Linked DNA regions of Homo sapiens: region 1 is linked to region 2. The links come from fine-mapping of genetic effects on gene expression. A gene starts in region 2. The other region holds a variant in brackets. All regions are shown on one strand. Distances are from middle to middle.

Region 1 (5,379 bases), 120 kb before region 2:
CTGACTCACCACTAAGAAGATGAACTTTAAGAATTGCACAGTTTGCCTCTCCCCCATGATAATATGCATAGCTAAGCCACAGCAAGGCTACCTTTCTCATTCTTGCTGCCTGCCGATGGTGTGATCTTAGCCCCTCTCTCAGTATTTGAATTTCCTCGGTCTTTATGAATGGTAAGAGTTGTTTAAGTCTCTCCTTGCAACACTCCGCCACCCACCATTCATCCCATAATCTTTCACATGGAAGACTGCATGTATTTTGTAAAACCAGGGGGAAAAGTCCTGATTCTAAATCAAGAGGCAATTATTAAGAGTGGCACGCAGGTCATTTTTCTTCCTTCCTCCAACCACCCTGTCAACCACCACCCGCCATGTTCACAAAAGCCTCCAAGGCTACCTACAAGAAAATACCCAGCTTTCCTCTAGGGTGACTTGACTCTTCAAACTGCTTCTCAGTGGAAAACTTTTTAAACGCTCCGTTTTATTTATTCTCTAACAGTTTTCCTGTTAACTAGGTTTGGAGGTGTTTTCTGAAACATGAATGCCATTAATCCAACACCAAAAAGATTCCAGAACTTTCCAGGGCACACATGGCCAAGCCTTCCAGACCAGTTTGCACTGGAGGAGCGTTCTGCACTGGCAGGCGTTTCTGCAGCTTCTGACATCAGGGAAAAGGTGTTATTCCTACAGTGCTGCTGACGTTATGTAACAGCAGAGCCATTGCTTTTTTTTTTTTTTTTTTTTTTTTTTTGACGGAGTCTTGCTCTGTCGCCAGGCTGGGAGTGCAGTGGCGTGATCTCAGCTCACTGCAACCTCCGCCTTCCGGATTCAAGCGATTCCCCTGCCTCAGCCTCCCGAGTAGCTGGGACTACAGGCATGCAGCACGCACGCCCGGCTAATTTTTTGTATTTTAGTAGAGACGGGGTTTCACCATGTTGGCCAGGATGATCTCGATCTCCTGACCTCGTGATCCGCCCGCCTTGGCCTCCCAAAGTGCTGAGATTACAGGCGTGAGCCACCATGCGGCCCCATAGCTTCTTTAGTTGAATGGCTGCCTCTGGAGGCGGGACCCACAGGGACTGCCTGGGTGGAAGAAAGGCAGGGAAGGCTGCTTTCACTCATCACCGCAGACTCACTGCCATTCAGCTAGGCCGATCTTGTAGAACTGACGTAGAAAAGATTACTTCTCCATAAGTATAGGTTCTGGTCAGAACCAAACTCTCTTTCCAAGGACTGCTTCCTGCCTGTTTGTGCACACATCTTGTTTTCTTAGGGTCATTGGGACTGAATACTAATTAATCGAGGTCTGCATGATCAGCACCGAAGCAAGCGCCTGAAAAGAGAGTGAATCTTTTTTAAAAGTTACTTTATTATTTGTATTTATTTTCTGGGTGTTGTTTCTGATTCCAAGTAGTTACATAAAAGTTGCAAAGCCAGTTAAACACCCTCTGAATGTTCCTGCAGAACTTGGACTGGGCGCTCCCTATTTAGAGGTTAATAATGGTCAGTGGCTTTCTCTTCCTTTCTAACTTTATTTGGGGTGTGCCTAGCCTTGAGATCTGGGTTGTGGCCATGAATAGGTCTCTGTAGTCCAAGAAACATTTCTCAGACTACGGAAGATGTGTGGAAAGACAGTGCCAAGCTGCCTGCCGCTGTGGCAGCACCAACGGAGAAGAAAAACAAGCCAAAGGATGCGGGTGTGATCAGGGCCTGCGCAGGGGTTGGAGTGGTCATTTGGGGCTTCCAGAGGGATAATGACAAGTTTATCCACAGGAGTAAAGGGTTAGAGCAGCCAGAAGACGCTTGTGTAATGTCCCAGCAAATCAATTTAAAGACTTAAATATGACAACATGCTAAAGAAAGCCTGGAAGGAATTGGTGGGTGAAAAGGAAATCTGCCGGCCTTCAAAAGTGAAAAACGAAGCAAAATGGAGCTCCAAAAAATGGTGGCTCAACGAGACCCCAGTGGGCTTGGCTAGAGGCTCCGGAACAGAAGGCCTCAGTCACCTCATTGTATTCAGCACAGTCTCTAAAGCTGAGAGCAGGAAATCCTGTTGCCCCACCCATGTCCTCAGCTGAGGTCCCATGAGACAATATTCCTTAGATACCAGCAGAAACTTTTCTTACATGCGAAGGGGTGTAATTCACAATATTCTTTAGAAAGATGGTTGAAAGGTCACGTCATTCAGGCCATAAAACATTTATCCACACATTTATTCATCAATAATTTACTGAGTGCTATACCAGGGGGAGGGGAAAGGGTGGGGGGGGTGGGTTATGATGATGCCAACGATTAAAGAGACCAGTCAAGACACTCAAGTGAGCCTGTGGTCTAAAATGATGCTACTGAAGGTGGCAGATGCCCACCTGGGAGTATCTTAGGAATGCAAATTCCAGCCCCGCCCAGCCTTACTGAAACAGAAACCCTGGGGGTGGTGCCCAGCCATCTGTGTTTTAACAAGCTTTCCTGATGCACGGAAAATTTAAGATGTATGGGAACATGGTGTCTCAAACAATGATGTGTCCTGGCCATTTGCGAGATGTGTGGAAAGTAATATATTATTAATGATAGTTAGCATACCGACATTTGTGAATAATTTATATGTATGTCACCTGCAAAGATTTTGTAAAAATACAGATCCCTGGCTCCACCCAATTCCAACGGAGTAGAAATATCCAGGTGTGGCAGGCAGTATTTAGTTTTAAGACTTCCCAGGTGACTCTTAGGATCCGTCAGGTGTGGGAACCAGTGGTCTATAAGAGCCATTTGCCCCATAACAAAGAGAAAAAATCATGGAATTCTAGAGGGTGGTCCCTCGGAGAGCAGGTTTCCCCACTCCCCTAACAAATGTTAGGCAGATCTCAATTGAAACACATACAAGAGAAACTCCAACTGCAGCAGAAATGGAGTGGAGGTTGCTTCATACTTTCCTTTCTGCAGTGGCTGTTGCAGCTCTTAGTAAAAATCTAGAGCTCTCGGCCGGGCATGGTGGCTCACGCCTGCAATCCCAGGACTTTGGGAGGCCAAGGTGGGCAGATCACGAGGTCAGGAGATCGAGACCATCCTGGCTAACACGGTGAAACCCCGTCTCTACTAAAAAATACAAAAAATTAGCCGGGCGTGGTGGCGGGTGCCTGTAGTCCCAGCTACTGGGGAGGCTGAGGCAGGAGAATGGTGTGAACACAGGAGGCGGAGCTTGCAGTGAGCGGAGATCGCGCCACTGCCCTCCAGCCTGGGCGACAGAG[C/T]GAGACTCTGTCTCAAAAAAATAATTAAAAAAAAAAACCTAAAGCTCTCAAAAATATGGTTTGAAAAGCATGGATGTTTCTATCACCACCTCCTCCTCCTGCCACATACGCCCCATTCATTGATGAAGAAACCAAGGCTCAGAAAAGTAAAATGACCTGAAAACATGTGACTGACCATTCAGGTCTGCCCAAGACTAAAGGCATCCCAGAAATTAGAGCGTTCAGTTTTAAAACAGGGACAGTCCCAGACCAACCAGGATGAATTCGTCACCCTAGGTCGGAGACTTCACGACACCCACAGTTCTTGCGTTTTGGCTGATTTATTATTGTTGTTGTTGTTGCTATTATACCATATTACTGCAAGAAGAATTCAAATTACTATTGGTTTTTAATTTTTTTTTAAATTTTTCTAGCCCCTTGAGAAGTTCTTACTAAATTACTATGGTTTCCTTTTAAAAACCATATTTGTTTTTATTCCCTCATTCCAGAAGGATTTAAGGGAGTAATACCCTTATTTTATGTGTTTTGAAATACTTGTAAGTATTCTAAAATACTCTGGACTATTCCTGTGTCCATGTCTCCTCTATCTGACTTCAGACCCACCATACCATATGCATTTTCTCTTTGGCTTCCATATATTTGTGTGATGTTTGCTATGGCACCTACTGTGCCCTACTGAGATCTGTGTATTAGTCAGAACTCTTTAGCTTGCCAGTAAAAGAAAACAAAAGGATGGAGTATGTCAGCTTGGGTAGCAGAAAAGAGCTTCAGGCACAAGTGGATACAGGGGCTCCACCTCATCAGGACATGGTCCCTCTTTGAACCCATAGCAAGATGGTCACATGCAGCTCCACACACCCGCATCCTCCCAGCAACCCAGCTGACGGCATCTTGTCCCCAGTAGCTTTTGTAAAAGTCCCTAGGATGAACTCTGTTTGGGCTGACTTGTGCTATGACCCTTCCCTAAACCAGTTGCAGCCCCCAGGACAATGGAATACTCTGATTGTCCAGACTGTGGCCATGCACCCACCCCTGGCACCAGGGTCTAAGAAGAGAGAAATGCAAGTCTCCCAAAAGAAAGTCAAAAGATGGTTCCTAGAAGCAGAGGAGGAACAGATGCTGGGTAGGTGAAAACAGCAAATGTCCATGGTAGTCTTAAACAGTTCAAGAGGGCTGACCAACTGATTGGCTGATGCACGGGCAACAGCATGCAGCTCCATGTCTTCCTCTATCCCCACTCTGCTGAGATCTAGGTACTATTTTCCCCTGAAACACTAGGTTGCAAGACTCCAAGGTCACCATTGTCAGTTCTAATTTTGAAGACACGCACCACATTTAGCTGAAGCTAGCAGCAGCCCCAGAACCCATGGGACTCCATCCGAAAAATGATAAGCCCTTTGCTGGGCTCCCAAATATGGAGCTCCTGAGAGTGAGGAGCTGGTGACTCATGTTCTCTGTGCTTTGGTTGCCCCCACGTTTTCCAGCTGGGTTGGTGACGTGGGACTCAGTACTTTCTTCAATGCGTCCTGTACACAAAGAATAAATAGCCCCAGAGCTCTTTCTTTTTCTTCCTGCCTTTCTTCCTGTAATTCATTCTCAGCCCAACTCAGCTTTGTTCAAACCACAGTATTTCACATTGCCTGGCAAGTTCTGACACAGCTGCTTGCTTTATTCTTTCAGTCTTCTGTTAAGCCAGAGGTAAAGTTATACCTTGTGGCTAATTTTTAGTCTGTAAACCTTATCCCTTGTTCAAGCCGAAATCTTAGATTAATCAGCATGAAAATGCCAGCTCCCCCAAGACCGTTGAATTATGGCCCCCATCACTCTTCCTGCCCTGACATTCATTTGAGTCCCTTTCAACTTTTACAAGTTGTTTTCTCTTATCCATGAGCAAGGTGGTGGCTTGGGCCTTTTTAGGCAATTTTCTTTTCTTCTTAATCACCTGCCCCTATTCCATCCAATCTATTTCAATTTCTATATAATCATGTAATACATCTCTAATTTGAGTCACCAGGTTTTCCACGTTAAAGGTGGGCTTTAGGAATGTTTATTTTACAAACTAATAGAACTTCCAGTCCTATGGACTCTAACTAGTAGTGGGGCCACTGTGTCAGCTTCCCAGAGCTGCTGTTACAAA
Region 2 (5,364 bases):
ACTAGCTAGAGAATGAAATTACAAAAAAACCCCAGCACAAACTTTAGGAAACTGTTTGAAAACATTAAAATAGGATGGGACAGCACTCACTTACTCAATGATATTCATCAAACAAAACAGAAAAAGGATTCAGCTTGACCACTTAGGAAGCCAAAGGAATGTTATCTAGATCTCTTGGAGGCCGCAAGACTCATCTTACAGATGGGAAGGGCTTTGAATCATTGTCCTCCTTTATCCAGGTAGACACCAAAAACAATTTCCTGCAAACTAACGACTCTCCGGTCAGTCTGCAGGATTCTTAAGGAGATCGTTACAATGCAATATGCTGCGTGCTTAATTTGTGTTCAGAAAGGCCTTGCACAATCACTCAGGCTTATTTTTGCTCTAAGGACAAATGAGGAGAAGCAAGGCCTAATACAGGCTGGAACAGGTATGTCAACCTCATTAGGATGGCCTGGGGGGTCATGTCCCTGGAATCAGTGCCACACTGAACTGCAAACTAACCTGCCAACCCTGTATCTGGAAACCACTTTTGTAGGACAGCTGTTCTCTCATTCCTTTTGCTTAGATCATAAAAGTAGAGTTTTCATCCATTGGGAATTTGTGTGTTAGACGCGAAGGGAATCAGATTCTGATCCAACTTGGTCAGGAAAAAAAAAAATAAGGGCTGATTTTTCCATCCAAGTCATGTAGTCTGGTTGGAGTGCATCCCACTCAGGGACAGCTATTGTCTGGATTCACCGAGTCTCAGTCTTGCCCGGGAAAAAGGAATTTTTCGCCTCACTGCTCTGTCCGTGAGAAGAGTTGCAGAAGGTGACCATTTCTGTTTTCTGGGTGATTCTCTTTCTCTATAGAAATCCTAAAATGGAACCTTTATAGAAATTATGTTCTGTGCTTCGCTGGAGAGAGACTGGTCTTTTTAACCAGGCTCATCAAACAGTGGGCATTTTCGTTCTCCTGGATAATAAGTGTTGGTGGGTTAATGGGTCATCCTCAGGACAGAGGTCAGAAGGAAAAACACTGCAGTGTTCAAAGCTGGAGCTAGAAATGCCAGCCGTCAAAGAACACAGAACTCAGTGGACGGTGATGATGTATAGGGCGTGCACTGGCCAACCCCATCCGAGAGGTCACATCTAACCTTTATCCTCAGCAAAGCCACTGAAGGTCGCTCAATATGTGTGACCCGCAACTCTGAGGCCCTGGTGAGAAGCTGTCCAGGAAAACGCTGGTGCGTGTGCTAGAGGGTTCCTTTTCACTAAGGGAGAATTGTCTTCCAGCTCCTTGCAGACTGACATCGCAAAGTACTTTGAACGTTGAAAAGAACAAAAAAAGCAAACAGTCACACACACACAAAAAGTAGGCGGGAGGAGGGGGAAAGAAAAAGGGACAGAGAGAGAGAGAGGTATCAGCAGGGGTGGTTAGTAAAAAGGGGCCCGGAGACAGAAAACCTTTTGTTCCCGGAGTTCGTTTCATGTAGAGATTGTGAGGTGAATGGCTTTGAAACGAAATGGGTTTATGAAGGAGTTGCTAGGTCACAGGAAGCGCGACTGTCAGACTGCTTTTGTGAATTCAGTTTCTTTAAAATTTGGGTTAATCTTAAAAAGAATGTATCTCCTTTTCCTGTTCTTTCTCTTTCTGTCTTCTTTTTTGGCGGGGGCGGGAGGACAGAGTAAGGTTCAGGACGGTTCCCCACTTTCTGTTTTATTTTCCACCGTCTGATAAAGCAAAAAGAAGCGATCACATTACAAGTTCTTTGTCAGTTTTTCAGAATTAGGGGTGGGCAGGGCCTGAGCATTACCTTGTCCCACTAGCCAATGGCGGGGCGGCATGCAAATGAGGTCCGCGATCAGCCTGCCTCAGTCACAACAGTGAGCTCAGAGACTTGAGGGAGGCGCTGCGACTGACAAGCGGCTCTGCCCGGGACCTTCTCGCTTTCATCTAGCGCTGCACTCAATGGAGGGGCGGGCACCGCAGTGCTTAATGCTGTCTTAACTAGTGTAGGAAAACGGCTCAACCCACCGCTGCCGAAATGAAGTATAAGGTAAGAGAGTGCCTTTTACAGGTTACCTTGCAAGCTGAAAGCTGTGCCTGCGGGTGTGTGCTTGTGTATGCGTGTTCCTTACTGTCAGTCCCTTGTGTGTCCCGGAGAGTTCTAAGATGAGTCTCGGTCACTGAGGTTGACATGCAAGCAGACAAGCAAGCAGAGACCCGGTCTTTGAGACCCACTCCAGGGGTTCACAGTACACCCGAGTCCATCTGCTCTGAAAGTTGCCGGGGAAATACCTCGGTGAGAAGTTAAGACTTGGAGCCGCTTCACAGCAGCCACTGGAGATCAGAGGGTGTCTGACTTGAATCGCGGCAGGCATTGGCTCAAGTCTCCTTGGCTTCCCCAGGCCTGGCTTCCACTGCCCTGGGGAACTGTAATGAGAGGAATGAGGACTGCATAGTCTGTCTCAGACTGGCTCTTAGTGCAAAGTTTTCCAGACTTTGCTTTAATCGTTTGGTCTCGGAAGGAGTATGCCATATGCACTTTTGGTGGGAGAAATTAAAAGCCCAGATTACACAGCTGAGGATGGAAAATTTTGACATCCTTATGTTATATTGGATGTAGGAATAAATAAGTATGAGCCATTTCTTGAAAACATTTTTATTGGAGTTTGAATGGGGTGAGAGTGCGAAGGCTCAGGCTGGCTCATTGTGCCTGAAAGCTTACAGAGTGTCATAGTCATAGTACTTCAGCAGCATTATTTTCCAATGCATTTTACACCATTGTTTGTGGATTTTTCTTGCCAAAAGGATTTTTGACTTGCTCCGTATATTCCCCCCTCCCCTTTTTCTTTTAAGTCACTCCCATCTAAGGAGGCAAGCAGCTTCCAGGGGACACAAAGAAAGCAGACTGCAATGAATTGGACATGAATTTTTCTTGAATGATGAATAGACATGAGTGCTAGTGCTACTATTTTATTTTATGCTATTTTAAACAAAAGTGTTATTATTAAGATGGATTTGGGCAAGGGTGCTAGGCTTGTGGATTGACAATTTATATTAACTGTACACTAGCTGGAAGCTACTTCGCTTTTTTTCTAAATTTTTCTGGTCCATCCTTTTTTGATGTAAGGTTGTAAATACTTGGTCTAACTGATAGCCACTGACTAGCCTCAGTAATAAAGCTTTTGTTCAAAAACTATGAATCTTATTCAAAAGCTTTAAGTCTAAATGTCAAAAGTCTTTATAGTAATGCCTACGTTACCACTGTCTGAAGACACAGGTATCAGCTATTTCTGTTTCATCAGCTTTCTATTATCTTCATCAGTAGGGAAGATCAGAGGAAAGGGTCATCCTGAAGACTATTAATATTTGACTTTAGGATGCAACCAGAAACAAATCCCTCTACTTGGCAGGAAAGTTATCTTCCTTAAAGTGGCTCACCCCATATTTCCTTATTTAGAACAATGATAGGACCAGATATTACTCAGCCTGGAGTGACTTTTTTGCTCCTCCTTTCCCTGTTGTTGAATAAGAACTGGCTTGCAGAAAAAAGAGAAAGTATGTTCATATGTCTATTATTGGAAAGTATAAATGGCTGAAATTAACATTGAGTGCTATAATCTAGAAAGTGACGAAAGCGACAAAGTCTCAAGTCACTTTTATTCAATGATCTCATCGTGGTTAGCTTTACTCTTTATGGAAAGAAAATCTAAAGGCAACTGATAAAGTGACTGACAGCGTAAACTGCGATTGGCATTCATGGAGAAACCTGCTTCTCCACTGGGCCTTACTGGTGTTGAACACCTTGCCAAATGATGTAAATACATGATTTTTATTACCTTGTAGGCACCTTCACCAGCAAAAAAGCTAACTTCTCCGACCGAACACATGACTTATGCCCTATGATGACTATTAAATCAACCAATAGCTGAAGAAATCCACTTTCCTTTTTTATAAAGTTTTCTTTCTCTCTAGTTAATAATGAACAACTTTACTTCAGGAAAGGATTTTGTTATTGTAAGTAGAGGAGAGACACAAAAGTAATGAAGTAACATTAATTGAGACTTACTGTGACAACACAAGATTGTCATATTCAACTCTCCCAATAGCTCTACAAGGTGGGTATTATTTTTATACTCAATTTCAAATGACACAGAGAGGCTAAGTAATTTATCTAATGCCACACAGCTAGAAAGTGGTGAGCTGGGATTAGAACTAAGGCGATCTGGCTCCAGAACTCATGACTTTAACCACTATTAAGAGAAAGAGAAAGAGCTATCGTTGACCTCTCTAAAATATGGCCAGTGTTTTCTTCTCCCAGAAAGTTTAAGACTATTTCATCCCAAGTATTCCTGCAGGATAATTTCTTTTTAAGATAGTAACTCTACAAAGCAAAATGAAGTGCATGTTTGGCAGTTATTTGTTTAATTCGAGCCACTTAGGTAGTAAAACCAGATAATTATTAGATGGTAAAATCCCAGAGACAGGAATTATCTCTAAAATACTACGTTGCTCTATGCACTGTAAATTTAGCACAAACCTTAAAATGTTTACTGAAAGACTTATGAATCAGGCCCTATAAGATTGTCGTTGTTAACCTGATTATCTGGTTTGGCTGCCCCAGGGATCACAACTACGGAACAACAAACCTTCACTTATTTTGCACTTAATATACATAGCTTCAGGCCAGGCAGCAAGGTACTTGCAGTAATCCTGAGAACTGTGGAATGTAAGCTATTACTCCGGACAGACATTTCTGGTTAGCACTTATCTAATCTGTCTTTATTTCCCTGTATGTTTTTATTTGTCCACAGGAAGGTTGCAGTCACTGTCATACGTACTTAATTTTCCATTTCTCTTAGAAGGGATTCAGTCTGTGGTTATGTGATAGTAAATTACGGGGGCTTCATTTATTAAGAATTTTCTACAAAATCCCCTTCATATACAGAGCATGTTCTTAATTGGGCGGGGGCTGGCGGGGTTAGGTGATTGCCTCGATGGCCTTGGTTTGCTTACCCAGTGAAGGCTCCCTCCTGAGGGTCTGGAGGTGTATGGTTGTGCTGTTTCCCAGGAGGGTGATGGAAGGGTCTCTGCGCAGCTGTGTTTGAGCAGAAGCCCCCGAGACCCCACCCCGTTTGTGCCTGCCAGGCCCGAGGCCCCGCCCACCTCAGGCCCAGCCCGGGCGGGGGCTCAGCGGCCCCTTGGCCTGGCTGCTAATGGCTGAGCAGAGACGCTTTTGTGGCTTTGCCAAATTTCTGAGCCCTTACGTGCCTACATTAAAATTCTAAATTATTTATCTCGTCTACCATGCAACAAATTCATTCTTTAACGTTTTGACTGAAGAAAAATTACAGACGGAACTTACAATGCCATTAA

The links. PIP is the estimated chance that this variant, and not a neighbour inherited with it, causes the effect.
Region 1: its variant is the best candidate, but not a certain one, in a credible set for the expression of NEDD9 in whole blood (TOPMed, PIP 0.55).

Annotation. Positions count from the first base shown.
Region 1 is chr6:11,353,616-11,358,994 of GRCh38, reverse strand. It overlaps a transcript of NEDD9 not described here. Among named protein-coding and RNA genes, the nearest start is that of NEDD9, 120 kb to the right of the region's middle. The variant C/T (reference allele first, on the strand shown) is at 3,243.
Region 2 is chr6:11,229,181-11,234,544 of GRCh38, reverse strand. NEDD9 (neural precursor cell expressed, developmentally down-regulated 9) reads left to right here and starts at 1,877. Exons shown (of 7, transcript NM_006403.4): 1 at 1,877-2,041. The coding sequence starts at 2,030. LOC124901256 (a long non-coding RNA gene) reads left to right here and starts at 3,835. Exons shown (of 2, transcript XR_007059449.1): 1 at 3,835-4,106. RefSeq lists silencers at 1,790-1,839, 2,320-2,369.